Linked DNA regions of Homo sapiens. The protein of the gene in region 1 purifies or fractionates together with the protein of each later gene. This does not show direct contact. Each region holds a gene or a part of one and is shown in the gene's direction. Other genes may lie near its edges. The genes, in order: CDKAL1, ALCAM, RAP1B, BPIFB1, TTYH3, DNM3 and LETM1.

Region 1 (3,500 bases):
CTGGCCTCTGGAGATGTTTTTTTTATTTATTTATTTATTTATTTATTTATTTATTTATTTATTTATTTATTTGAGACAGGGTCTTATTCAGTCACCAATGCTGGAATGCAGTAGAATGATCACAACTCACTGCACCCTCAATCTGCCAGGCCCAAGCAATCCTTCCACTTCAGCCTCTCGTGTAGCTGGGACTATAGGCACACACCACCACACTCGGCTAATTTCTGTATTTTTTATAGAGACGGGGTTTTGCCATGTTACCCAGGCGGTCTCAAACTCCTGGACTCAAGTGATCTGCCCACCTCTGCCTCCCAAAGTGCTGGGATTACAGGCATGAGCCACCGGGCCCGGCCACTCTGGAGATTTTTAAGGGCCTTGCCAATGAGACTGGGGACACAAATAGGATGACTCCTCAGTTGAGGACACAAATAGGATGACTGAAAAGGTGTTTGCCACTATGAATTAGTGCACATTGCGGTTCTCCTGAGTCTCTTTGGCAAATAATAGTTAAATACTCACCTACAAATAGTTCTCTTATGGTTGATTAAAAGCCCAGCTTTCTACTATATAAACATAGCAAGTCTTTTTAACTCTGTATATATTACTGTCATTGTTATCATCTCCAGATGAAATAGAGCAGCCCAAACATGATGGGCCTTACTCTCCACGTTGATTCTAAGAAGAAGAAAGAAGCAGCATAGTTTTCAGTGGCTCTACAATTTCACATTGTTGTTAATTTCCTGAAAACTTGATGTTAAATGAAGTGTAATTGCAGATTTCCTTAAGAACCATTGACAGATACTTATCCTAAGTCATAAGCAACTCACACTGTGAAATGTGTGCAAACATTCTAAGTTTTCTTCTAGAAGAATATACTTCAGTGATACCCAATATTCACCAGCCCTTTTTGATAAACAGAGCCATTGAAGCTCAACATGGAAGTTGGGGGAAATTTCTTTTTTTACACTTGATTTTTTTAAGGGGATTAATGTTGCCAGAACTTCCATTGTTTTTCAGACAGTGAAAAGAGTCTTTAGTAAGTGTCATCTCAGAGACCTTACAACTTTTGGCTAAGAGGGCTATATTTTGAATGAGATAGTAAACTAGATAGTAAATTATGGTGTATTTAGGTACTGGCATTGTATGATAGAGAGGGGAGTTTGATTTGTTTTTTAATTGTTAGGTGGTCTATTTAGTGCAGCTGTGTTTATGTTTCCTTCATGGTAACCGCCTGAACATGGTGACAAGTCCCTACAAATGAGAATAGGAATTTTAAAAAATTATCTTGCCAGTGGGCTTTAATTTGGGGGGGTCATAATTATTAAGTAGCATTGGTAAAAATAATCCCCGGCACAGTCATTCAGTACAGTTGTTTTGCTGTATCAGACATTTTGACAACCTTGTAAAAAGAGTAACTGAGTCCAGGCATGGTGGCTCATGCCTGAAATCCCAGCACTTTGGGATGCCGAGGCAGGCGGATCACCTGAGGTCAGGAGTTCGAGACCAGCCTGGCCAACATGGCAAAACCCCGTCTCTACTAAAAATATAAAAATTAGCCGGGCATAGTGGCGCATGCCTGTAATCCCAGCTACTCGGGAGGCTGAGGCAGAAGAATCGTTTGAACCCGGGAGGCGGAATTTGCAGTGAGCCAAGATCATGCCACTGAACTCTAGCCTGGGTGACAGAGTGAGACTCTGTCTCAAAAAAAAAAAATAATAATAATAATAATACTTGATACCTTAAGTGCTGCATTTCACAGTAGAATAAACTTGGAAATTATAGAATTTCCTTAGAATAGTCACACTTCTTTACCCATTGTTTTGGCTGATTTACTTCTTTGCTATTAAAAATGGGTGCCTAGATCATAATGTACATCAATTCTGTGGAAAATTAGCAATTCCATGTTTTTGCTGTCTTTCTCTTTAAAAAATAATAAATGAACATGGGGTCATGACTGCAGCAAAGAGACAGTTGCCTGTGACAGAGAAAATGTATATAATAAGTAAATAGCTCTGTGAATTACTCAGTACTTTCAGAATTGTATGTAAGATATGAAATGTGGAGGTGCAAGGTCCTAATGACTAGTTTTCCGAGGCATTTTCTTTAGTGTTACATCCCTCATAACTCAAATGAATGTTTATTACTATTCTTTCATATTGCCAAAATATTTTCATGAATTTGGATTAGAAGCAGCTTGTTCTGGCTTGTTTTGCAACTTTGTTTCAGGAAACAAAGTGATATTTAGAAGATTTTTGTATGTCATAGAAGCTTTAATTATCTTACTTATGTTGAAGGAGATCAAATTCTGTTTCAGAGTTATGTAAGAAAATAAGAGTTTATACTATGCTAATTTTATGTTGCCAGATAATTAATGTCTTTCAAAAAATTTGAATCCGTGATTTGAACAGGGTTCGCTGTTAAATAACCAGCAATGTAGAGTCTACTTTAAATTCAAGAAGACGCTACTTGGTCCAGACCTACCTGGGCTAGCCTTTATTTTTATTTTTGGATTCACAGGTGTTTACCCTTATCTTTCCTTTCTTTCCCTCCCCTTCTCTCCACAGATTGGTGAAAGACAACAAGTGTTAGTAACAGAAGAATCTTTTGATTCCAAGTTTTATGTTGCACACAATCAATTCTATGAGCAGGTAAGAGGCACTTCAGTATTCTTGAGTTTTCTCCAAAGTGAGAAAGAGTTCTGAAAGTTTAAGCAAAGGGCATTTAAAGGGGAGAGTGTTGAATCTTGTCACAACAAGGCTGTTTTATCGCTTCAAGCCAGCCAGGCTAACATGGACTTTATCTTTGTGACTTACTCTACAATATGTTCTGTACAAAGGAATAGGTGTATTTAGTCTATTTTAGTTCACATTAATCTTTGACAGGACCAGCTTTAGGCTTTTGGGCGTTTGGAACCAGGCAATTAGCACTGCCAGAATTCCCACACCCTGGCAAAGCAGGGGGGAAAGTCCTGCTCAGACCACAGGAAGGATGTCTGCATGGGCGACAGCAGCATGAAAGGGCAGGGATTTCCTCTCGCTGGTACATCACCCGGACAGTTTTTTTAGTTGGTTGGTTGATTGGTTGGTTGGTTGGTTGGTTTTTTAGTTTTGTTTAGTTTTAGCATCTGTTTTTTTAACTTCTACCTTAATAAAAATGCTGGGAGCAGAGGAAAAGGAGTCTATTCCTTGGACTCAACTCTAATTGTATGAACAACTGTGCAGACCAGTGTGAGGATCAAACCAGCTTCACTGTGAGAGCTTTGAAGGCCATCCCTAGGGGCGCCCCCAATTACTAGCCCTCCTTCCCTGGCCATCTAAGTTGGCCTGCCTTTGCCCACCGAGGAGCCTGACTTCTGTTTCAGCATCAGGGTTTCTACTCCTCCAGGTGGGAGAGCAATTCAAAAGTGACTGAGGAAAAGAGAGTGCCTCTTTCAGGGTCATTGACCCTGGCAAGGGCCAAGGCCAGGGAAGAGATGGGATACGCCCTCCTCTCCCATCTTA
Region 2 (3,500 bases), on another chromosome or scaffold:
AGGAAATAATTTCTGTATATGGCATGATCTAGAAGTTAATTAAGTGAGTGGGAAAAGGGATTCCAGGATTCTATTTCTGTGTCTCTGATTCACGGTTTTGAAACGACATCTAACCTCACTACATGTCAATTTTCTCTCCTGCTGAATACAGTTAGAAGGAAAAAAAACACTTCTCAAAGGTGTGGTGCTGTTTCGTTAAGGATTGTGATTGTCAGATGAAAGACCCTATCATCAGTGTTCTTTATTTTCTTCAGCGGTGGTCATAATTTTTAAAAAGGAAATGGACCCAGTGACTCAGCTCTATACCATGACTTCCACCCTGGAGTACAAGACAACCAAGGCTGACATACAAATGCCATTCACCTGCTCGGTGACATATTATGGACCATCTGGCCAGAAAACAATTCATTCTGAACAGGCAGTATTTGATATTTACTGTAAGTAATTCAATATATAATTATGCTATTTAATGTATTAGAAATAATATTCAAATGCTATTAATCTTTGAGGTCCCAATCCAATTACTCTTTGAATTCTGCTTCCAGTCTGCACCCCAAATTGATGGCACCCAAATAATCTCTTCCTCTTTAGGAGACCATAGCATGAATAAACATTTATCCATCCTATAATATCTTTCACTCTCTACATTTTATCTATGAGTGTCTCTTCTGAATTCCACTACACACTAAGTTCTTTAAAGATAAGATCTATAACTTATTTTCTGGATGAATGACAGACAAATATAGACTTTAACTGGCTTTCTAAATAAGAGATTACCATTTTAATGAAGAAATTTATTTTAATAATAAGATCAATTGCATAAGTTTGATAGGATGTTGTATTACAAGACATTTTACTTAACTAAATTGTGTATTTGAAACAGAGTATTTGTCTACAAAGGAATCTTCATGGTCATCTGTTCTAACTTCATTATTTTAGTTAGTAAAGTGAGGCACAGAGTCTTGCCCTAAATTAGCTGTAGATATTAGAATAGAATCTTTTTCTCCATTGCTGTGCTTTCCTTGTAAGACAGGTGCCAAGATAATCTAATGATTAGAAGCAAAAATTCTGGAATTCTAGTCCCAGCATTATCAATTACCATTTCTTGAAAAGTAGCTTAATTACTCTACATCTCAGTTTTCTTACTTTAAAATGGGAAAAATATAATACCTAACTGATAGTGTTGTTATAGAGAGTAAGTGAAATCACAAATCAAAAATAGCATGCTACATCACACATTAAATTGTCATTATTAAGTACTTTATTATTATTATTATATGGTCATTATCACAATATAAACATAGAGCTGAAGATATTTGGGGGGAAAATGCAATAAAGGATTTTCTTCTTATTATTAATTTATCTAAAATTTTTGTGATACTGGCATGTGTTCTACAGTAACCTAGCACTTCTACATCTATTTTAGAGAAAAGCCAGGAATGCCTGCTGAGCCTTTCGAAAGAATCACCTCACCTACATTTCTTTTTTTGGTTCCCTAGGGCACAATATCTTATATGAGAACAAAAGTGAAATTCTTCCAAAGTTGCCCTAATATTAAAAGGTAGTTTTGCCTTAAACTTGGGAAATAAGTTTCAACTTGATTTAAACCCAAGAAATTAATATTTCATTATGTATAGCTTATCTAAAATCAAACTTTTTTAGGTGAAGGCAGAATTCTTTCTTTCTTTTTTTTTTTTTTGTGTGAGACATAGTCTCACTCTGTTGCCCAGGCCAGAGTGCAGTGGCGTAATCTCAGCTTACTGCAACCTCCACCTCTTGAATTCAAGTGCTTCTCCTGCCTCAGCCTCCCAAGTAGCTGGGATTAGAAGCGCATGCCACCACACCCTGCTGATTTTTGTATTTTTAGTAGAGGTGGGGTTCCACCATGTTGGTCAGGTTGGTCTCGAACTCCTGACCTCAGGTGATCTGCCCACCTCAGCCTCCCAAAGTACTGGGATTACAGGTGTGAGCCACCAAGCCCGGCCCAGAATTCTTTCTGTTAGAAATATTCAATTGGAAATAAACCATATTAGTGTAAGTGTAGGTGTACAACACAGGAGAGAACATCAAGATAAGTAATAAGAATTGGGAAATTGGCTTCAGAAAGAATAGAAATATCTGTGAGTATGAGGCATGCAGAGTTGGGTAGACGGAGAAGTTCTTGAATGGATACGAAGAAAATGATTTTATCATGCTGGCTGTGTAAGGTGCACTTGTCATGGCTTTTAAGAAGCCACAGTGGGCTTCATGGTGAAAACACGAAGCACAAAGAAGCAGTTTAAGACAGTCCTCACATTCAAGGAGTGTACTACTCCAGTAGAGAAACAAGACACCTACATCAGAAGGAAATTGCCAATGCAAGGTTGTAAGGGTAAAAGTCTTAGGAACTCAGTATTAAGAGTCTTGAGGGCTCAGGTGCCCAAGGACAGTGGTTCTCAAACTGTAGTGTAAATCAGAAGAACATGAAGGACTTGTTAGAGCACAGATTACTGCACCCTGGCCTTGAGTTTCTGATTTAGTGGGTATAGGACGGTGATTGACACTCTGCATTTGTAACAAATTCCCTGATGGTGCTAATGCTGCTGATCTGAGGACTACGAGTGGAGAACCACTGCTCTAGGAAGACTTCAGAGAACAGAAGAAGAGTGCTAAATGGAAAGGAGAGACGAGTCCATTTCAAGAAAAAAAAATTGGCCAATTCATCTTGAGAAAGCTTGAGAAAAATGCACCAGTCCACTCCTTTCTTACCCTATTCAATCAGTAACGAGGTTTTAGAGAATCTAGCTCTTTAATCTTTGTTTTGATCTGATTTCTGCCTTCTGACACTGCCTACGTTTATGCCACCATTCCTCATTGCCTCTATTCCTGCGATGGATTTCAAAGTAGTATTTTTCCAATGAATTGCAAAATAGTATTTCTCTTGTCTGCCCACCATTCTCTGTTCACCCCCAAATAAACTGCCCTCCAAACTGCTGCCAGAAATATTTTTCTAAAACACAAATGTGACAAAAACTTCTCAGTGACTCCCCAGAGCTCTCAGATTAATATCCTTCCCCCTCCCCCAATTGCAGTATGCCTTGAGTTCGTTTTAGCCATGGTCCTACAGTATGTCTCAACCCTCATCACTGCCTGTATCCACTGTGGTCTGTTCTACTTTCCAGATTCCTTCTGTAGAGTAATACTTACATGCCTATGCATATGCTGTCATTTTCCCACCTTTATCATTTAGCAAATACCCATTTATGTGTCAAAACCCAGCTCCAGGGTCAGTTCCTCCAGGAAGCTTCCTAGTCTCATGTAATGATGGCTACCAGGATCCCTATGCTTGTGTCATATGCAGGTTTTATGTGGTCATACTCTTAATTATTAAGTTTGGTGTCTTTACAAATAGAGGAAAAGTTCATTGAGGCAGGGTTTTCAACTTCCTAATTCCAGCACTTAAGGCTTGCACAATATAGATGCCAAACAAATGAATAAATGAAGAAGGACTGTAGGATAAA
Region 3 (3,500 bases), on another chromosome or scaffold:
CTGTGGAGATTGTGCCACTGCATTCCAGCCTGGGTGACAGAGCGAGACTCTGTGTCAAAAAAAAACATAAGACTACTAGTTGCTAAACTTTAAATCTTTTTGTTGTTGTTCCGTTGAATCCTTAATTTTATATTGGCCGGGCGCAGTGGCTCACGCCTGTAATCCCAGCACTTTGGGAGGCCAAGGTGGGTGGATCACTTAAGGTGAGGAGTTCAAGGCCAGCCTGGGCAACACAGTGAAACCCCGTATCTACTAAAAATATAAAAAAAATTAGCCGGGCGTGGTGTTACACACCTGTAATCCCAGTTACTTGGGAGGCTGAGGCAGGAGAATAGCTTGAACCCGGGAGGCGGAGGAAGTATATTGCACTTTTTGTAATTGCAGTGGGTCAGTTATTGAAAAGTTTAGAAAATGTGTTAGAAGAAAAATTTTCAGTCTCACTAGTACTTTTAAAACAATATATTACCATATTTCAAATAATACAGGCATACATTCATTCATCAGCAGCTGTGTGAAATATTTTGATTGAGCTGGGTATGATGGCTCATGCCTTGTAATCCCAGCACTTTGGGAGGTCAAAGGGGGGTGGATCACCTGAGGTCAGGAGTTCAAGACCAGCCTGGCTAACATGGTGAAACCCGTCTCTATTAAAATACAAAAATTAGCCAGGTGCAGTGGCAGGCACCTGTAGTCCCAGCTACTCGGGAGGCTGAGGCAGGAGAATCGCTTGAACCCTGGAGGTAGAGGTTGCAGTGAGCTGATAACACACCACTGCACTCCAGCTTGGGTGACAGAGTGAGACTCCATTTCAAAAGAAAAAGAAATATTTTGATTGGTATCTGTTCTCCTTCAACGTATTTATAGACAAACTAAATTTGTAGGTATGTGAAGATGAAGGGAAGATTTGTTCTCGGTGTATGGTATTCATTCAGCTAATGTTTGAATACCTGATACATGTCAGGCACTGTGTTGTTACCTTCAAATGCTCACAGTCTAGCAAAGAAAAAGTAGTGTGGGAAAATGGGATGGTCTAGATCATGCTGATGGAGCCCTACAGAACTACAGCATTTGAGTCATAGCTAATAGATTAACTTGGCAGATACAGTTGGGGTGCTTTATACATGATGATGTATTTTAAAAGCTGCCTTTAGTAACTTTTGGGGACAGGATATTTCTGTTCCACTTGAGTATATTTTTTGTATATAAATCGACTTTGGTGTATTGTTTTTAAATAGGAAACCTATTTCCAGCTGGGCGTGGTAGTTCACGCCTGTAATCCCAGCACTTTGGGAGGCCGAGACGGGCAGATCACAAGGTCAGGAGATGGAGATCATCCTGGCTAACATGGTGAAAGCCCGTCTCTACCGAAATACAAGAAAAAAATTAGCCGGGCATGGTGGTGTGCGCCTGTTGTCCCAGCTACTCGGGAGGCTGAGGCAGGGGAATCACTTGAGCCCGGGAGGCAGAGGTTGCAGTGAGCCGAGGTCGCGCCACTGCACTCCAGCGTGGTGACAGAGCAAGACTCCGTCTCAAAAAAAAAAAGAAACTAAAATGCCAATTTTTTCAAATAGTATCTTGTCATAGATTATAATTTTAACAAAGTTACATAATACTACAGTATTCTTCATTGAGCTATAATTATAGACTGTGAAAATTGTAAAAATAACTGTCAAAACATTATTGTTTTTTAACGTTCCTTTCTTTCTATTGTAGGAGCAATTTACAGCAATGAGGGATTTATACATGAAAAATGGACAAGGATTTGCATTAGTTTATTCCATCACAGCACAGTCCACATTTAACGATTTACAAGACCTGAGAGAACAGATTCTTCGAGTTAAAGACACTGATGATGTAAGCTGACTTCCAAATAAATATATTTTATTTCAAAACCCTGATTATAATTGTTTAAGTCTAAATTTAAATTCATTTTAAAGCTTGTGTATTTTGGTTGGGGGGGGGGTGTTGGTTTTTTTAAACTTTTTCCTTGAAAGGCAAAAATACCCATACATGTTTTCAAATATATATCATGTGGAAAGTGAGAAATTTCCTCCTTTGCCATTATCCTGTGAAAATTAAATGTTACACCCTTCCTTTTTTTTTTTTCCTTTGAGATGGAGTCTTGCACTGTTGCCCAGGCTGAAGTGCTGTGGTGCGATAGCTGTACCTCCCGGGTTCACGCCATTCTCCTGCCTCAGCCTCCCGGGTAGCTGGGACTACAGGCGCCTGCCACCATGCCCAGCTAGTTTTTTGTATTTTTAGTAGAGACAGGGTTTCACCATGTTAGCCAGGATGGTCTCGATCTCCTGACCTTGTGATCCGCCTGCCTCAGCCTCCCAAAGTGCTGGGATTTTAAAGGCAAGAAATACATTAGATTCTAACATTATTAATTTAGGTGCCCCTTCAGAGTCTACCATAATGGAGTTTAATTCCTCATCACACTAAATATAGCAGTGGTTCTCAAAATTGATTTTGCATCAGAATCACCTGTAGGACCAGTTAAAACAGATTGCTGGGCTGAGATCTCAGAGCTTCTGATTCAGTAGGTCAGCAGTAGGACCCAGGAATTTGCATTTCTAACAAGTTTCGAAGTGGTGTTGGTTTTGCTGATCTGCATACTGTAAGAACCAGGCTGGGCATGGTGGCTCACACCTCTAATCCCAGCACTTTGGGAGGCCAAGGCGGGTAGATCCCCTGAGCTCAGGAGTTCAAGACCTCCCTGGGCAACATAGCAAAACCCTGCCTTTACCAGAAATTTAAAAAAAAAAAAATTAGCCAGCATGGTGGCGCGTGCCTGTGGTCTCAGCTATTTGGGAGGCTGAGGTGGGAGGATCACTTAAGCCTGGGAGGTGGAGGTTGGCAGTGAGCTGAGATCACATCACTGCACTCCATCTAGGGTGACATAGTGAGACCCTGTCTCAAAATAAATACATAAATAAGACTCATTGTACTGCAGTTTAATTTTAGCAAATATTGTGAGAGCTGGGAGACACCCATGGTAAATGCTTTTATTTTCTGGACTTCTGAAACAAGGGAATTTGGGGGGACCCTACATAATTACAGCAACCTCAGGGAACATTTTTTAATTTGTAAATCCATTTAATAAGTGGCTTGATTTTTAGTAAATTTTGATTGGCTTTTTTTTTTTTTTTTTTGAGACGGAGTCTCACCCTGTCGCCCAGGCTGGAGTGCAATGGCACGATCTCAGCTCACTGCAACCTCTGCCTCCCAAGTTCAAGCAATTCTCCTGTGTCAGCCTCCCAAGTAGCTGGAATTACAGGCGTGTGTCACCATACCCAGCTAATTTTTGTGTTTTTAGTAGAAACAGGGTTTCGCCATGTTGGCCAGGCTGGTCTCCAACTCCTGACCTCAGGTGATCCACCCGCCTCGGCCTCCCAAAGTGCTGGGATTACAGGCGTGAGCCACTGTGCCTGGCCTTGATTGACTTTTTTAATACAAGACTATGAGAAACTAAAAATTCTATTTTGGGAGCCTTCCGT
Region 4 (3,158 bases), on another chromosome or scaffold:
TTCATTCATTCATTCATTCATTCAGTAATTCACTAAATATTTTTCGAGGGTCTTCTATAGGCAAGCCATGCTTCTGAGTGCTTGAGGCCACCGAAATGAACAAATGGAAAACACTCCCATCTTTTTCAAGCCTACCTTTTAGCAGAAGAGGCAGATACACAAGCCCTAAAGATGTAACATCAGGCTGAGTGGAGGAAGGCTGAGAAGAAAAATAAAGCAGGCTCAGGAGGAGAGAGTGATGTCAGGGAAGGGGGTGCTGTTTCAGATGGGGTGGCCAGGGAGGGCCTCTCTGAGGAGGTAACATTTGAGCCAATGCCTGAGGAGGTGAGGGGTGAGCCCTGTGGGTAGCTGGGAGAAGTGTCCCGTCAGAGGGACAGCGTATTAGGCCGTTCTCACACTGCTATAAAGAAATACCTGAGGCTGGGCTCAGTGGCTTGTGCCTATAATCCCAGCACTTTGGGAGGCCAAGGTGGGCAGATCACCTGAGGTCAAGAGTTCGAGACCAGCCTGGCCGACATGGCAAAACCCAGTCTCTACTAAAAATACAAAAATTAGCTGGGCGTGATGGCGGGTACCTGTAATCCCAGCTACTCGGAAGGCTGAGGCAGAAGAATTGCTTGAACCCAGGAGGCGGAGGTTGCAGTGACCTGAGATCACGCCATTGCACTCCAGCCTGGGCAACAAGAGTGAAATCCATCCCCCCCCCAAAAAAAAAAGGAAAGAAAATAAATACCTGAGACTGGGTAATTCATGAAGAAAAGAGGTTTAATTGGCTTGTGGTTCTGCAGGCTGTACAGGAAACACGATGCTGGCATCTGCTCAGCTTCTGGGGAGGCTTCAGGAAACTTCCAATCATAGCGGAAGGCAAAGGGGAAGACTGCACATCACATGGCCCAAGCAGGAGCAAGGGGTGGGAGGTGCTACACACTTTTAAACAACCAGATCTCACAAGAGCACACTCACCATCACGAGAACAGCACCAAGAGGATGGCGCTAAACCATTCACAAGAAACCAGCCCCATGATCCAATCAGCTTAGACCCCACCTCCAACATTGGGTTCTACATGAGATTTGGGCGGGGACACAGATCTAAACCATATCAGATGTCAAGTGCAAAGGCCCTGAGGCAGGGATTGTTGGTGTTCCAGGAAAGATGAGGAAGGAGGCCCAGGATCTGAGGCAACATCCAAGGCAGGTAACCTCATAGGCCTGAGATGCATGCATGCACACACACATATACACACACACACGCACACCTTTATACACCTATACACATACATACACACGCACATACAAACACATACACCTTTATACACATACATACACACACACACCTTTATACACCTATACACATACATACACACGCACATACAAACACATACACCTTTATACACATACATACACACACACACCTTTATACACCTATACACATACATACACACGCACATACAAACACATACACCTTTATACACATACATACACACACACACCTTTATACACCTATACATATACATACACACACACATACATATTGCACACATACACACCACACACATACACACTACACACACACACATAATACACACACCACACACATACACACTACACACACACATACACACACACATAATACACACACCACACACATACACACTACACACACACCACACACATACACACATACATACACACACATACACAGAGACGCACACATACACATATACACACATACACACACTACACATGCACATACACATACACACACACACACACACCATGTGGCCAGATGGTCTCAGCTCAAGGCCAGGATCATGTCCATCTTGTCCATGCCTCTGTCCCCGGTGCTCAGCATGGCCTGGCACACAGTAGGTGTTCAATAAATGCTTGGTGAGCAAATGACTCTCCGTGGCATCTGCTGGGGAGAGGATCTATGGCAGTGTCACCCTCGCTCCCAAATACTACCCTTAAGAAGAACAGCTCACAGTCACTGTGTGCCAGGCTCTGGGGCATCTCTCCCCCTCTAGAGTGGAGCCAAAACTTCAAGAAGGCAGGGGTTTCTGTCTGCTTTGTTCTCTGTTGTGATCAGTGGCTGCACACAGTAGGTGTTTAGTAAATGCCTGCTAACTGAGATGGACACCTTACTGTCATTAGCTCATGCAGAGGAGGGGCCCAAAGCAGGGGGTGATCAAGGCGGGTGCTAAGTGCAAATCCCACTTCTGCCACCTACTGAGTGCGTGACTTTGGAAAGGGGCTTTTGCCATCTTCAAGTCTCAGTGTCCCCATCTGCAAAATGGAGATGACATCAGGACCTGGTGTGGCATTAATGTTCACACACAGACCCTCCACCCCGACCCTTCTAAGAATTCTGTATTTGTGGGTTCAGGGTCATGGTCCCCCGGTGCCAGCAGTCACCTTATGGAGGACAAAACCAGCATAAACCACAAGGCAAAAGGTTAAAGAAACCTGTTTTCTGACTTTTCCCCTCCAATTCCAGGATGCCCTTGTGCTTACTCCAGCCTCCTTGTGGAAACCCAGCTCTCCTGTCTCCCAGTGAAGACTTGGATGGCAGCCATCAGGGAAGGCTGGGTCCCAGCTGGGAGTATGGGTGTGAGCTCTATAGACCATCCCTCTCTGCAATCAATAAACACTTGCCTGTGATGCCTGCCGTCTGGAGTCTCTTTGTCCCGGCACAGGAGTCATTTTGCCCCTGGCAGGCTTGGGGACTGGATGGCTGAGCCACACCTGGGTCATGTTCAGGCACATCTGAGCCAATCTGGGTGATGTCTGGGCCACATGTGGATGATGTCCACAGTCTTGACCACCTCCCTGTGCTTCAGGAATCAGAAAGCCAGCTCTTCCCACCTGCCTTCATGTCAGCCTCAAGACCATCTTCAGTGGGATGGCTTTTAGGGTGGGGGACATATGTTTTGTTTATCTTGGCAGTGTGGTGGACAGAGGACTCTCTGAACAATGTGGATCTGGGGGCAGATGAACTAGGCTTGGAGCTCTGGCTGGCCTCTTAATGCTTCTTTGACTCTGGGATGTAGTTTCCCCTCTGTGGGCCTCAGTTTCCTTCTCCGTAAAATGGGGATAGTCATTGTCTCTGCCTTGGAGGGCTTTGGTGAGGAGTAAATGAGAGAACAGTTCCAGATACATGG
Region 5 (3,500 bases), on another chromosome or scaffold:
AGAGGGCAGGGGGTGGAGGGGCATCTGGGGTCGGCTCTGTGCAGCTCCCCAGCCAGTGACTGTCGAGAGGGGCTCCCGTGCTGCCTGAGCATCTGAGTGAATGGGGGGCTGTTGTTCACAGGAGGGATTTGGAGGCCCACAGGAGGCCTGAGACTCCCTGGTGGCCCTGCAGCTGAGCTGGCAGGGCTGGGCCTGAGGCCTCTGGCGTGGCCCGGGGCCAGTCAGTGCTGCATAGTGAGTCCTGAATGTCAAGTGGGTCTGGCTGTCCTGCCCCGGGCAGGGGCCCTTGAGGGCAGCAGAGCCTTCTCTTCAGCTAGAGCATCGCAGGCCTGCACCCTCGCTCTGTCGCTTCTTCCTGCGTGACCTTGGGTGGTCCAGACACTGTCCTGGGCTTTATTCGGGGGAGGCCTGCCTGCTCAGCTCCCACCAGCCCTTTGTGACCCCGTGTCCTCAGGCAGGGATCAAGTTCATGCCCACTGACCTCAGCCTCTCTCTCGGGCTGTCTCCTCCAGCTCAGGGCAGGCCAGATGCAGGACAACAGCTACGGACTGTGGTGGGTTGCGAACCCAGGCGGTGGGAGCCCAGTGGTCAGGGAAGGCTTCCTGCAGGAGGTGGTGTTAACTGGCTTGCCATGGAGGTTGCAAGCCCGGCTGCCGACAATCAGAGGGTTAGGATTTGCCTGCTCATTTCTGACTCCTCCATGGGCCGTGCTGGCCCTGGCAGGTGATGGTTTCACTGGGACATCTGCCTTCCAGGGCAGATAGTGGGCCCTGCCTCAGTTTGCCTAGCATGGGGGACGTGTTTTCCACTAGAGCCTGGAATGCCCAGATGTTTCTGTTGAGACCTTAATGATAAGACTGAGGTCACCATACAGAGACCTTGGGGAAGAGCTTCTGGGCTGGGGGAACGGCAGGTGCAAAGGCCCTGAGGCAGAGAGAAGCTTGAGCCTCGGGGAGAGGCCTCAGCCCCACGTGCCAGAGGGTCGCTCTGGTCTGACTGCGCACGGGGAATGTGCTGCCTCAGGAACTGGTGAGCCCTCTGTTCCAGGCACTGTGCCAGCCCAGGCTGGATGGCCACTCAGAGGGGATCTGAGCTCTGGGAGTAGGGCCAGTGTTCTCCTAGCAGAGTTGGGAGCCTGGCTCCTAAGAGCACAACACCTCTGTCTGTGCCGCCACAAGGTGAGGTCAGCCTTGTGCCCAGTTGCAGCCTGGGGGGCAGTTCCCTGGGGCAGGGCTGGCCTGTTATCATCCTCCCCACTCATCAGAAGGAAATGAGTTCTGGTTAAAACGGCAGTGTTGGTCGCCTGTCGCCTGTCTTGTCATTTACGAAAGCAGTACACGTTCATGGAACATTTGGGGAAAAGGGAAGAGCGTGAGACAGAAGCGTCCCTCCAGCTGGGTTCAGTCCAAGAGCATAGAGCTGTAGGGTGGGTGTCCCTGAGAACTGGAATCCTATTGCTTTTGACATGTCTCGTACTTTGGACCGTGTTCCAGATGCTTGTCCAGCGTCCCACGGTGCCAGGCAGGATTCTGTACCTACAGATGACAGAAGCGGGCCAGACACGGAGGCCCCCGGGGAGCTGGGTGGAAGCTTCAGGAGCAATCCCTGAGTGGACAGGAGCTGATGAACTAGGCTGGGGGTGTACAGCGAATGGGACCCTGCATTGGGGGGTGGAGGTGGGCAGGAAGCCCCTGATGGCTGGTCCCAGTCCACTCAGGATTTCCATCTTGGCCGGTGTCTGCATTCCTGGGGAGACTCCGATTGGCTGAGCTTGCCTTTTGGCCAGGGGGTGTGAAGCTGTGGGCCCTGGACCTGCTTGGGGTGGGTGTCAGGCCACCCTTGGCCCGGCCGCTGCCCGCATCAAGGGTTCCTATATCTGGGCTCCTGGTTTTTGTGGTTCTGAGGGTACTCTGGCCACCTCTGTCCCCAGGAGACTCTGGGGTTCTCAAGCCCCTTCCTTGGAGTGCAGCAGCCTGGGACCCTCTAGAAGTCCCCGAGGTCTTCACGGCTTTTTGTAGGTGTGGATGTTGGGGTGGTTATTCTTGCTCAGGGTGCTGGCTCCCTGATCTCCCCAGTTCTAGCATCACCAGGGGCCACTCCAGTCTGTGTGTGCGGGACCCCCGCCTGCCCCCCACTCGCCTGAGACTCGAGGGCCAGCTCTAGGACCCCTCTTCTGGGCATCTCCATGGTGACCCTTCTTCCTCCCCTGACCCCTGGGCAGGCCCTGCCAGCCAACCCCGTCTAAGGGATTTGCAGTGTCAGCCGCTCTGACCCCCGGCCGGGGGCTCTTGGTCAGGCTCTGGGGGAGCGGGGAGCCCTGCAGCTTGGTTCCCCAGGCCACGGCGGCTCTCCCCGGATGCTTGTGCTGCTCGTTTCTAAAGCACTTTTCTTGGAGAGCCACCCAGTGGCCCTGGGAGGTGGACACTGTGTCCCCGACATAAGCAGAAACGGGGGCCGGCCAGCATGGGGGGCCGGAAGACTGGGCACGGGTTCCAGCTGCAGCCCAGCCACGTCCGTCCCAGTGGATACAGCGTCAGCACAGTTCGTGAACCCAGGGGTGCAGGTTTAGGGGGCTCAGGGGCATCTACACTTCCCCCACCTGCCCCACCGTCAGTTCTGCTGAGGCCTCGGCTAGAGAAGAGGAACCGAATCTGCAGCCAGGGGCCTGGGGTCAAGGACATGGGAAGTGCCTGACGTGGCCACCGGGGAATTGGCATGTGACAGCGGGTGGATGGTGGGTGTGGGAGGGTCACAGGAGGGCCTCCTGTACCCGGGCCTGCCGCTATGTTCTGCAGGGAGCCCACCCAGGCCCTGTGCTGGGCCTCACACCATCCGAGGGGGCTTCTCACAGTCTTGGGAGGCTGGCTGAGACCTGAGTCCTGTGGGGCAGCACCCACTGTGGCTGGGTCAGGCCCATGTTGGCCGAGGGTGTGGGAGGAAGCCGGGCCACCCACAGAGTGCCAGTGCCTTCGGCCTCTGAGGAGGGTACCAGCCACAGTGCCCCTAGCCGTTCTGCCCCCCTCGGGCCTGTGCACGCTGGCTGGGTTCCTGGCCATCGTGGAAGAGCACTCCTGAAGTTCTGGGGTGCACCCAGCTCTGAGCCCTGCAGCCCTGTGTCTGGGGTTCGGCCGTGCCCTCTGGGCTGCCTCTCCCTGGTAGGGAGCTGATCCCGGAGATGGGGCTCCAGTCTGGCGGCTCCTGGCTGGGTCTGAGGCCTGGGGCCCGGTCCCCAGGCAGCTGGTGCAGAGGGCTGCAGACAAGTGGGAAGAGCAGGGGATTTTCCGGGTGTCACGCTGGGAGATGTGTCGGAGCACGGGGACCAAAATAGACACGCTTGCTGCAGCTCTTTGGTGTCTGTTCCTTGCACGAGGGGGAGGGCGGGCGTGGGCAGCGGGAGAGCTGGGGTCCCCCGGCTACAGGGTGCAGGAAAGGGGCCCGGCCTGTGGGGAGACGGGCAGGAGCGGCTCTGAGCCTCAGCCCCAGGGCTGCCTCTCTGGCCT
Region 6 (3,500 bases), on another chromosome or scaffold:
AAGAAGCTTTTCTCTGGCTTGATTTTCTCTAACTTCCTGGAGCACAGTAGGATACAGAGAAACCAGAGATTTGCCCAAGGTCAGAAGAAATCAGAGCTAGGTTTGGAACTTAATGTTAGGAACTGGGAGGCCTGTGCCAGTTCATCATCTTCTCTTCCTCCTGTTATTGTTTTAGAGCACCTCCCTCCAACCCTCACCCTGCCTCCTCCTTTTCCCATCCCTTTGCATTGGGCCAGCCTTTTTCTCTTCCGTGATACTCTCTTTCATTACTCTTCTTGATAGTTGACCAGCAGTGACATTGCATTTTATTACCTTTTTTTTCCCATACAGAATAGTGGAGACAGGGAGCAGAATTTTTCTCAGACTTAGGCAAGTTAATTTGACTGAAATAGTATACTCGTGAGTAAAGCGTGACTTTTAGGGAACAGATGGGCCCAGGAAAAGACTAAATAAGATATTGGATGTTTTTACACATTATTAATATTTATCCACCAGGTGGGCATTAGCTAGAAAGATATGCCTGAGATGGTCATCAATAGGCCTTGCTTAAACCAACACGAGCTTCTGAAAAGTTGTATGTAAATAAATAATCTAAATGGAAATGTTATTATTTAAACAAGTGGGTGAACTTTTAGGTAAAATAAAGATGTATTTGTGTAGCAAATCTGCATCCTTCAGTTTGCCTGTTTTCTATTCTTTTTGTGTGTGTGTTTGCATTCTTAGAGTGCATTGAGTGACATTGAGGTCCATTAATGTTATAGAGATTATTTTAACAATTTTTCAACAAGCATTAATATTGCATTGTCTTTAGTGTTAATTGATAACAAAAACAGAGCAGTTGTTGAGGAAAATGATGATACATTTAATTCCGGAATTATATGAATGATACAGGATTGCTTTAGATCTTGTTTTTCTCTAATATCCCTGCTGCAAGTCCTCTATTTCCAAGGGTTTAAAATGTACCTCAGTGCTTCTTTGTGACAGTGTGTCATTTTTATTTCCCACTGCTTCAAGGTCATGATATACCCATGAATAGCATATATATACATGATAGCAGTAGCTAGGTATCCTGAAGGACCTCATTGTTTATCCTTCCAGTGGCTTGGAATTGAAAGACTAATCTATTTGATAAGTAATTTGATGGGTGACTAAACTTGTTTATGGTGCTTATTTTTTTAGATTTCTCAAAAGTGAGTATTTGAAGAGGAGTCATCACAGCATGGTGATGGAGTGCAGGCTTTGCTGGCAGCTCTTGAGTCCTGCCTCTGACTCTCACTGGTAGCATGGCTCCTCATTACGGAATCTAGCCTCACTTGGCCTCAGTTCCTTCATCTGCAAAATAGGGATTGCAGACTTCACCTTTTAATCTGTGTGTGAGTTCTGAGTAAGATGGTATCAAGTGCCTGGTCCATAGTATGCATTCAATAACTGATTGCTCTTAATTTAAATCTTTTATTTAGACTGGACATTTTTTGAGTGTTTTAAAAACAAAAGTAAGTTGAGGCAGATGGTAATGCGTATTTGCAAATTCTTTTCGTGAATGTTGGAAAATTACAGTTGCATCAAAATACTTACTTGTAGATAAGGCTAATAGAATATATTTGAGCCTTCTTTAAAGAAAGCATTGCCCACATTCGTTAAATGCATTATCACAATGTGTTCTTTTTTTTTTAAACCAATATATACAAAGTGAACCCAGTTTGTATACTCTTCCCTTCCAAGAGTTCCAAAGCAGTTTTTATCATTTCATTAATCCTTCGAATTTCTGTGAGAAGATAGCAAAAGCATGTTTTGTTTACTTTAATTTAGAAATAAAAAAGATTAAGCTGGAAAAAAGTTGGGTGACATACTGGGGTCACATGGTGAGTACTAGAAATTAATGAACAAAATAGACTTAATAACAGATAATAGAATTAAAATGAATTTTTCTGACATTATTTTTAGTTTTCTCCTAGAGAATATATTTTAAGGAAGATATTTGATGCTGTGATATAAAGTAAACCATTCTTAGCATATTCCTTTTCTTTTGGAAATGTTAGATGAAATTGCAGGCAAAGATGGTGTAGAAGGGGGAAAAACAATTGAGGAAGTCTAGTTGGCGAAGCAGGACTACTTAGCAAGAGTATGGTCTGAGCCCAAGGAAACCATCTACAACCAAGTGTTCAGGAGGTAAGGTGTAATTAGATCTTAAAAGAAGTACCAACATTTTTGTAGTAGATGTTGAAATAATACCAAATCACTCTTTTTTCCAGTGGAAAGATTCATATTCTGATTTGATTGACATTCCCATAACTTGTTAACCATCAGTTTTAGCTCTGAGCTAGTCAGCTGGTTCTGTTTGGAATTACATTATTTTTAAGTTACTAGATATACCTCAGAAGCTTTGAAAAGAATAGCTTTGGGTTTCTTATCTAGTGGAGGTTTAGAACCCTGTATATGTGTGTCTGTTTATGTTTTCTGGTTAATAAAACTAAGACCCATTCTCTTCATATTTTGAAAAGAGGGGCAAAGGCTTGCAATTATTTTTATAGATCCTAGCATTCATGGTTCTGAGTCCTACTACCAGGACAGCAACAATTGTGTGGTGAGATTTCTGCATTCTCATCTAAATACCGATAGAACGACCTGCATACTGAAGTCCTTGTAAATTCAACTTAAGAAACTTTAGCCTGTTTATTTAATCCTAAAAACATATCATGTAAAATGTGTATGTGTGGGTACTTGATTTGAATTATGTACTTTGAAAGTTACATATTCTCTTAGGGCTTTGTTTTTTTTTTTTTTTCCTCAGAGTAAGTTAAGAAGGGAAGTGGCAGAAGGATCATGAGTTCCTTGCTTGCAGAGTAAGTGGGGAGATGAGAAGGAGGAAGCAATGCTTTTGTGAGTGTCCACCAGATTGTAGGGACATACGAAGAGAAAAGACTGGTAAGGTTCAACCACTGTGAGAATTAGGAGTATTTGTGAATGAGTTAGTCTGGGGTGGCTTTGGTTCTCTCCTGCTCCCTGTGGCAGGTGGTCCCTGCATATTTGTTCAAAGTGTGCCACAGGTAAGCAAGGTAGCATGCCAAGAACAGTGAGAGCTGGGTTTAGTCTGGCCTCTGCTGTCATCTGCTGGTCTTCTCAGCTCTATCTGTCTGATTTAGAGGCCCCTCCTTGGTGGCCCTTGTTAATATTTCACTGCACAGGAATCTACCGAACAGTTGGTTGCCTCCTCTGTCTGCTCAACTATTTGCAGCTTCCACGAAGCCAGGAGCTGTGTCTCCTTTATCATTTTCCGTAGTGCAGTGCCGGCATATGGCAGGAGCTAACTGAATGAATCAGCTACTTGACTCTGTACAAGCCATTTATCTAAGCTGAAACATACCTTTGTCATCAATAAATTGGTTGAGAATAGTTGAGTGGGCTTGGATTAGAACGGTTGTTGTTTTTTGAGACAGAGTCTCGCTCTGTCGTCCCGGCTGAAGTGCAGTGAGTGGCATGATCTCAGCTCACTGCAACCT
Region 7 (3,500 bases), on another chromosome or scaffold:
TGAGCCCAGGAGTTCAAGGCTGCAGGGAGCCGTGACTGTACCACTGCATTCCAGCCTGGGCAAAGTCAAATAAATCAAAATGAACAAAAGGCTGAGCACGGTGGCTCATGCCTGTAATCCCAGCACTTTGGGAGGCCAAGGCGGGCGGATCACCTGAGGTCGGCAGTTTGAGACCAGCCTGGCCAACATGGTGAATGAAACCCTGTCTCTACTAAAAAAAAAAAATTAGCTGGGCATGGTGGTGGGCACCTGTAATTCCAGCTACTCAGGAGGCTGAGGCAGGAGAATCAATTAAACCCAGGAGGTGGAGGTTGCAGTGAGCCGAGATCACGCCATTGCACTCTAGCCTGGGCGCAAGAGCGAAACTCCAAAAACCAACAACAAAAAAAGGTATCAGTATAAATCCCTGATTTACTACTCATTTATTTTCCCCTGTTCCTGTTACAGGTAGTCCAGGGGATCCTGCTCATCTCAGCTGTGCCAGCACCCTGGGGTTGAGGAACTGCCTGTGAGTAAATCAGTATCACTCTGCACCTGTCTGTTTGAAAACAGGGTTTGAAAATGGTGGAGAGTCACGAGTGACTCTTGATTTTTGAGGGAAACAGTGTATCCTACTTTCCTGTTCTTTGTTTCTTTTAAACCTTTATCTTTCCATTTTGAAAATGATTGTCACATGCCTCAGTGAATCTATAGACAGTATAGAAACATTCCTAACCTCAGTGCCCAGTTGCACTTGGAGAGCTGGGGACAGAAGGCTTCCTGTCCCCTAACAGGAATTAAATGGAATTTAATTGTTGGACTCCCAGTTGGAGTGGGCACTGGCAACTGTGCCCTCAAAGTGCCCAGTGTCAGTATTTTGATGTACAGCAAGTCTCATTTAATGTCTGTAGGTTCTTGGAAACTGCGACTTTTTTTTTTTCTTTTTTTTTTTTTTTTTTTTTGAGACAGAGCCTTGCTCTGTCACCCAGACTGGAGTGCAGTGGCACATGCTTGGCTCACTGCAACCTCCGCCTCCCAGGTTCAAGTGATTCTCCTGCTTCAACCTCCCGAGTAGCTGGGATTGCAGGCATGCCTCACTGCGCCTGGCTAATTTTTTTTTTTTTTTTTTTGAGACGGAGTCTCGCTCTGTCACCCAGGCTGGAGTGCAGTGGCGCAATATCAGCTCACTGCAAGATCCACCTCCCGGGTTCATGCCATCCTCCTGCCTCAGCCTCCCAAGTAGCTGGAACTACAGGCGCCCGCCACCACGCCCGGCTAATTTTTTGTATTTTTAGTAGAGATGGGGTTTCACCGTGTTAGCCAGGATGGTCTCAATCTCCTGACCTCGTGATCCGCCCGCCATGGCCTCCCAAAGTGCTGGGATTACAGGCATGAGCCACCGCGTCCGGCCGCACCTGGCTAATTTTTGTATTTTTATTAGAGACGGGGTTTCACCATGTTGGCCAGGCTGGTCTTGAACTCCTGACCTCCCGTGATCTGCCTGCCTTAGCCTCCCAAAGTGCTGGGATTATAGGTGTGAGCCACCATGCCTGGCAGAAACTGCAACTTTAAGGTCCACGAATAACGTTTTATTATAACTTTGGATGAGAAAAGAAATTGGTTTTCTTATGTCTTTTTCCTTAAGGTTGCATTTTCTTTTTTTTTTTTATTTTTATTTTTTTTGAGACAGAGTCTCGCGCTGTCACCAAGCTGGAATGCAGTGGCGTGATCTCTGCCCACTGCAATCTCCACCTCCCGGGTTCAAGCAGTTATCTGCCTCAGCCTCCCAAGTAGCTGGGATTACAGGCGCGCACACCACACCCAGCTAATTTTTTTTTTTTTTTTTTTTTTTTGAGACCGAGTTTTGTTCTTGTCACCTAGGCTAGAGTGCAGTGGTGCAATCTCGGCTCACTGCAACCTCTGCCTCCCGGGTTCAAGCGATTCTCCTGCCTCAGCCTCCCTAGTAGCTGGGATTAGAGACGCCGCCACCACACCCAGCTAATTTTTGCATTTTTAGTACAAAAGTACAAAATTTTCACCACATTAGCCAGGCTCATCTCAAACTCCTGACCTCAGATGATCCACCTACCTCGGCCTCCCAAAGTGCTGGGATTACAGGTGTGAGCCACTGCGCCTAGCTGCTCCCGTTATTTTCTTTAGTGAGTTCTCCAGCAGTTGTTCCTCCCTGGGGACCAGTTCCCCCAAACCTCGTCAGTCTGGACCTTCCTTCTAGATGAGCTGAACCATTTTACTTCTAAAACAGTCTTTTTGGGATTGTATCTGAAGTGTCATTAAACCAGTTGGGAAGGAATATTACTTTTTTTTTTTTTTTTGAGACAGGATCTCATTCTGTTCATTGCCCAGGCTAGAGTGCAGTGGTGCAATCATGGCTCACTGCAGCTTTGATCTCCCAGGCTCAAGCCATTCTCCCACCTTAGCCTCCTGAGTAGCTGGGACTACAGGCATTACCAACATGCCTTGCTAAATTTTTTTCTTTTTGGTATTTTTTGTAGAGACAGGTTCTCACTATGTTGTCCAGGCTGCTCTTGAACTCCTGGACTCAAGCAGTCCTCCTGCCTTTGGCCTCCCAAAGTGCTGGGATTACAGGTGTGAGCCACTGCACCCGGCCTGTTTTCTTTGTATAGGCCACATGCATTGCATTTTAGATAATTCCCAGATGTTTATTATTTTCATTAATTCTTTTCATTATCTTTTCTAAGTGATCATTGCTGTCCCGTAAGTTGCTAAGTTGTACAATTTTCTTGTATCTGGCCCCTTTCCTGTTATTTGTTCAGCTCTTGTAGCAGCCCAGGTTTAGTTTATGGCTGTGATCTTAGTACATAGTAATCATCTGCCTCTTCTTTCCCAGGGCTTCTGCTTCTGAGGTGGTTTCATTTCTTAGCTCAGTAGCCAGATCTGTGTCAGAACAGCTGTAGTCAGTCATGCGGTATCACAATAGCAGAAAATACAGGATCTAGTGTTTGTGACATATGATGTTAGCTTTTGGGTTTAAGTAATCTTTGTTCTGTCTGTTACTCTTTTTATTAGGAATGGATGTTGAATTTGTCAAGCAACTTTTTAGCATTTAAATTTCATACTAAAACATAAATGCTGGCCGGGCACGGTGGCTCACACCTGTAATCCCAACACTTTTGGAGGCTGAGTCGGGAAGATCACGAGGTCAAGAGTTCAAGACCAGCCTAGCCAACATGGTGAAACCCCATCTCTAATAAAAATACAAAAATCAGCTGGGCATGGTGGTATGTTCTTGTAATCCCAGCTACTCAGGAGGCTGAGGCAGGAGAATTGCTTGAACCGGGACCCGGGAGGTGGCAGTTGCAGTGAGCCAAGATGGCGCCACTGTACTCCAGCCTGGGCTAACAACAAAACATAAAAGCTGTACTTTATTCACGTAACTTTTTTTAAAGTTCCCAATTTTGAACATCTACTTAAAAATTTAAACAATGAGGACTGTACAGCTGTTTTGATGGACTTGTCTACTTATCAAGAATTATGGATGA

The links.
Region 2: the proteins of CDKAL1 (region 1) and ALCAM purify together in Homo sapiens (affinity purification with mass spectrometry; one large-scale study listed by BioGRID and IntAct). This does not show direct contact.
Region 3: the proteins of CDKAL1 (region 1) and RAP1B purify together in Homo sapiens (affinity purification with mass spectrometry; one large-scale study listed by BioGRID and IntAct). This does not show direct contact.
Region 4: the proteins of CDKAL1 (region 1) and BPIFB1 purify together in Homo sapiens (affinity purification with mass spectrometry; 2 studies listed by BioGRID and IntAct, with this or other methods). This does not show direct contact.
Region 5: the proteins of CDKAL1 (region 1) and TTYH3 purify together in Homo sapiens (affinity purification with mass spectrometry; 2 studies listed by BioGRID and IntAct, with this or other methods). This does not show direct contact.
Region 6: the proteins of CDKAL1 (region 1) and DNM3 purify together in Homo sapiens (affinity purification with mass spectrometry; 2 studies listed by BioGRID and IntAct, with this or other methods). This does not show direct contact.
Region 7: the proteins of CDKAL1 (region 1) and LETM1 purify together in Homo sapiens (affinity purification with mass spectrometry; one large-scale study listed by BioGRID and IntAct). This does not show direct contact.

Annotation. Positions count from the first base shown.
Region 1 is NC_000006.12:21,195,457-21,198,956, forward strand, and holds part of CDKAL1 (threonylcarbamoyladenosine tRNA methylthiotransferase), read left to right. Parts: intron 1-2,564; coding exon 2,565-2,648; intron 2,649-3,500. UniProt on the Homo sapiens protein: Catalyzes the methylthiolation of N6-threonylcarbamoyladenosine (t(6)A), leading to the formation of 2-methylthio-N6-threonylcarbamoyladenosine (ms(2)t(6)A) at position 37 in tRNAs that read codons beginning with adenine.
Region 2 is NC_000003.12:105,534,409-105,537,908, forward strand, and holds part of ALCAM (CD166 antigen isoform 1 precursor), read left to right. Parts: intron 1-254; coding exon 255-437; intron 438-3,500. UniProt on the Homo sapiens protein: Cell adhesion molecule that mediates both heterotypic cell-cell contacts via its interaction with CD6, as well as homotypic cell-cell contacts. Promotes T-cell activation and proliferation via its interactions with CD6.
Region 3 is NC_000012.12:68,652,399-68,655,898, forward strand, and holds part of RAP1B (ras-related protein Rap-1b isoform 1 precursor), read left to right. Parts: intron 1-1,713; coding exon 1,714-1,854; intron 1,855-3,500. UniProt on the Homo sapiens protein: GTP-binding protein that possesses intrinsic GTPase activity. Contributes to the polarizing activity of KRIT1 and CDH5 in the establishment and maintenance of correct endothelial cell polarity and vascular lumen.
Region 4 is NC_000020.11:33,307,214-33,310,371, forward strand, and holds the end of BPIFB1 (BPI fold-containing family B member 1 precursor), read left to right. Parts: intron 1-2,494; coding exon 2,495-2,554; 3' UTR 2,555-2,658; downstream 2,659-3,158. UniProt on the Homo sapiens protein: May play a role in innate immunity in mouth, nose and lungs. Binds bacterial lipopolysaccharide (LPS) and modulates the cellular responses to LPS.
Region 5 is NC_000007.14:2,634,986-2,638,485, forward strand, and holds part of TTYH3 (protein tweety homolog 3), read left to right. Parts: intron 1-3,500. UniProt on the Homo sapiens protein: Calcium-independent, swelling-dependent volume-regulated anion channel (VRAC-swell) which plays a pivotal role in the process of regulatory volume decrease (RVD) in the brain through the efflux of anions like chloride and organic osmolytes like glutamate.
Region 6 is NC_000001.11:171,847,998-171,851,497, forward strand, and holds part of DNM3 (dynamin-3), read left to right. Parts: intron 1-3,500. UniProt on the Homo sapiens protein: Microtubule-associated force-producing protein involved in producing microtubule bundles and able to bind and hydrolyze GTP. Most probably involved in vesicular trafficking processes, in particular endocytosis.
Region 7 is NC_000004.12:1,846,157-1,849,656, reverse strand, and holds part of LETM1 (mitochondrial proton/calcium exchanger protein precursor), read left to right. Parts: intron 1-447; coding exon 448-508; intron 509-3,500. UniProt on the Homo sapiens protein: Plays an important role in maintenance of mitochondrial morphology and in mediating either calcium or potassium/proton antiport. Mediates proton-dependent calcium efflux from mitochondrion.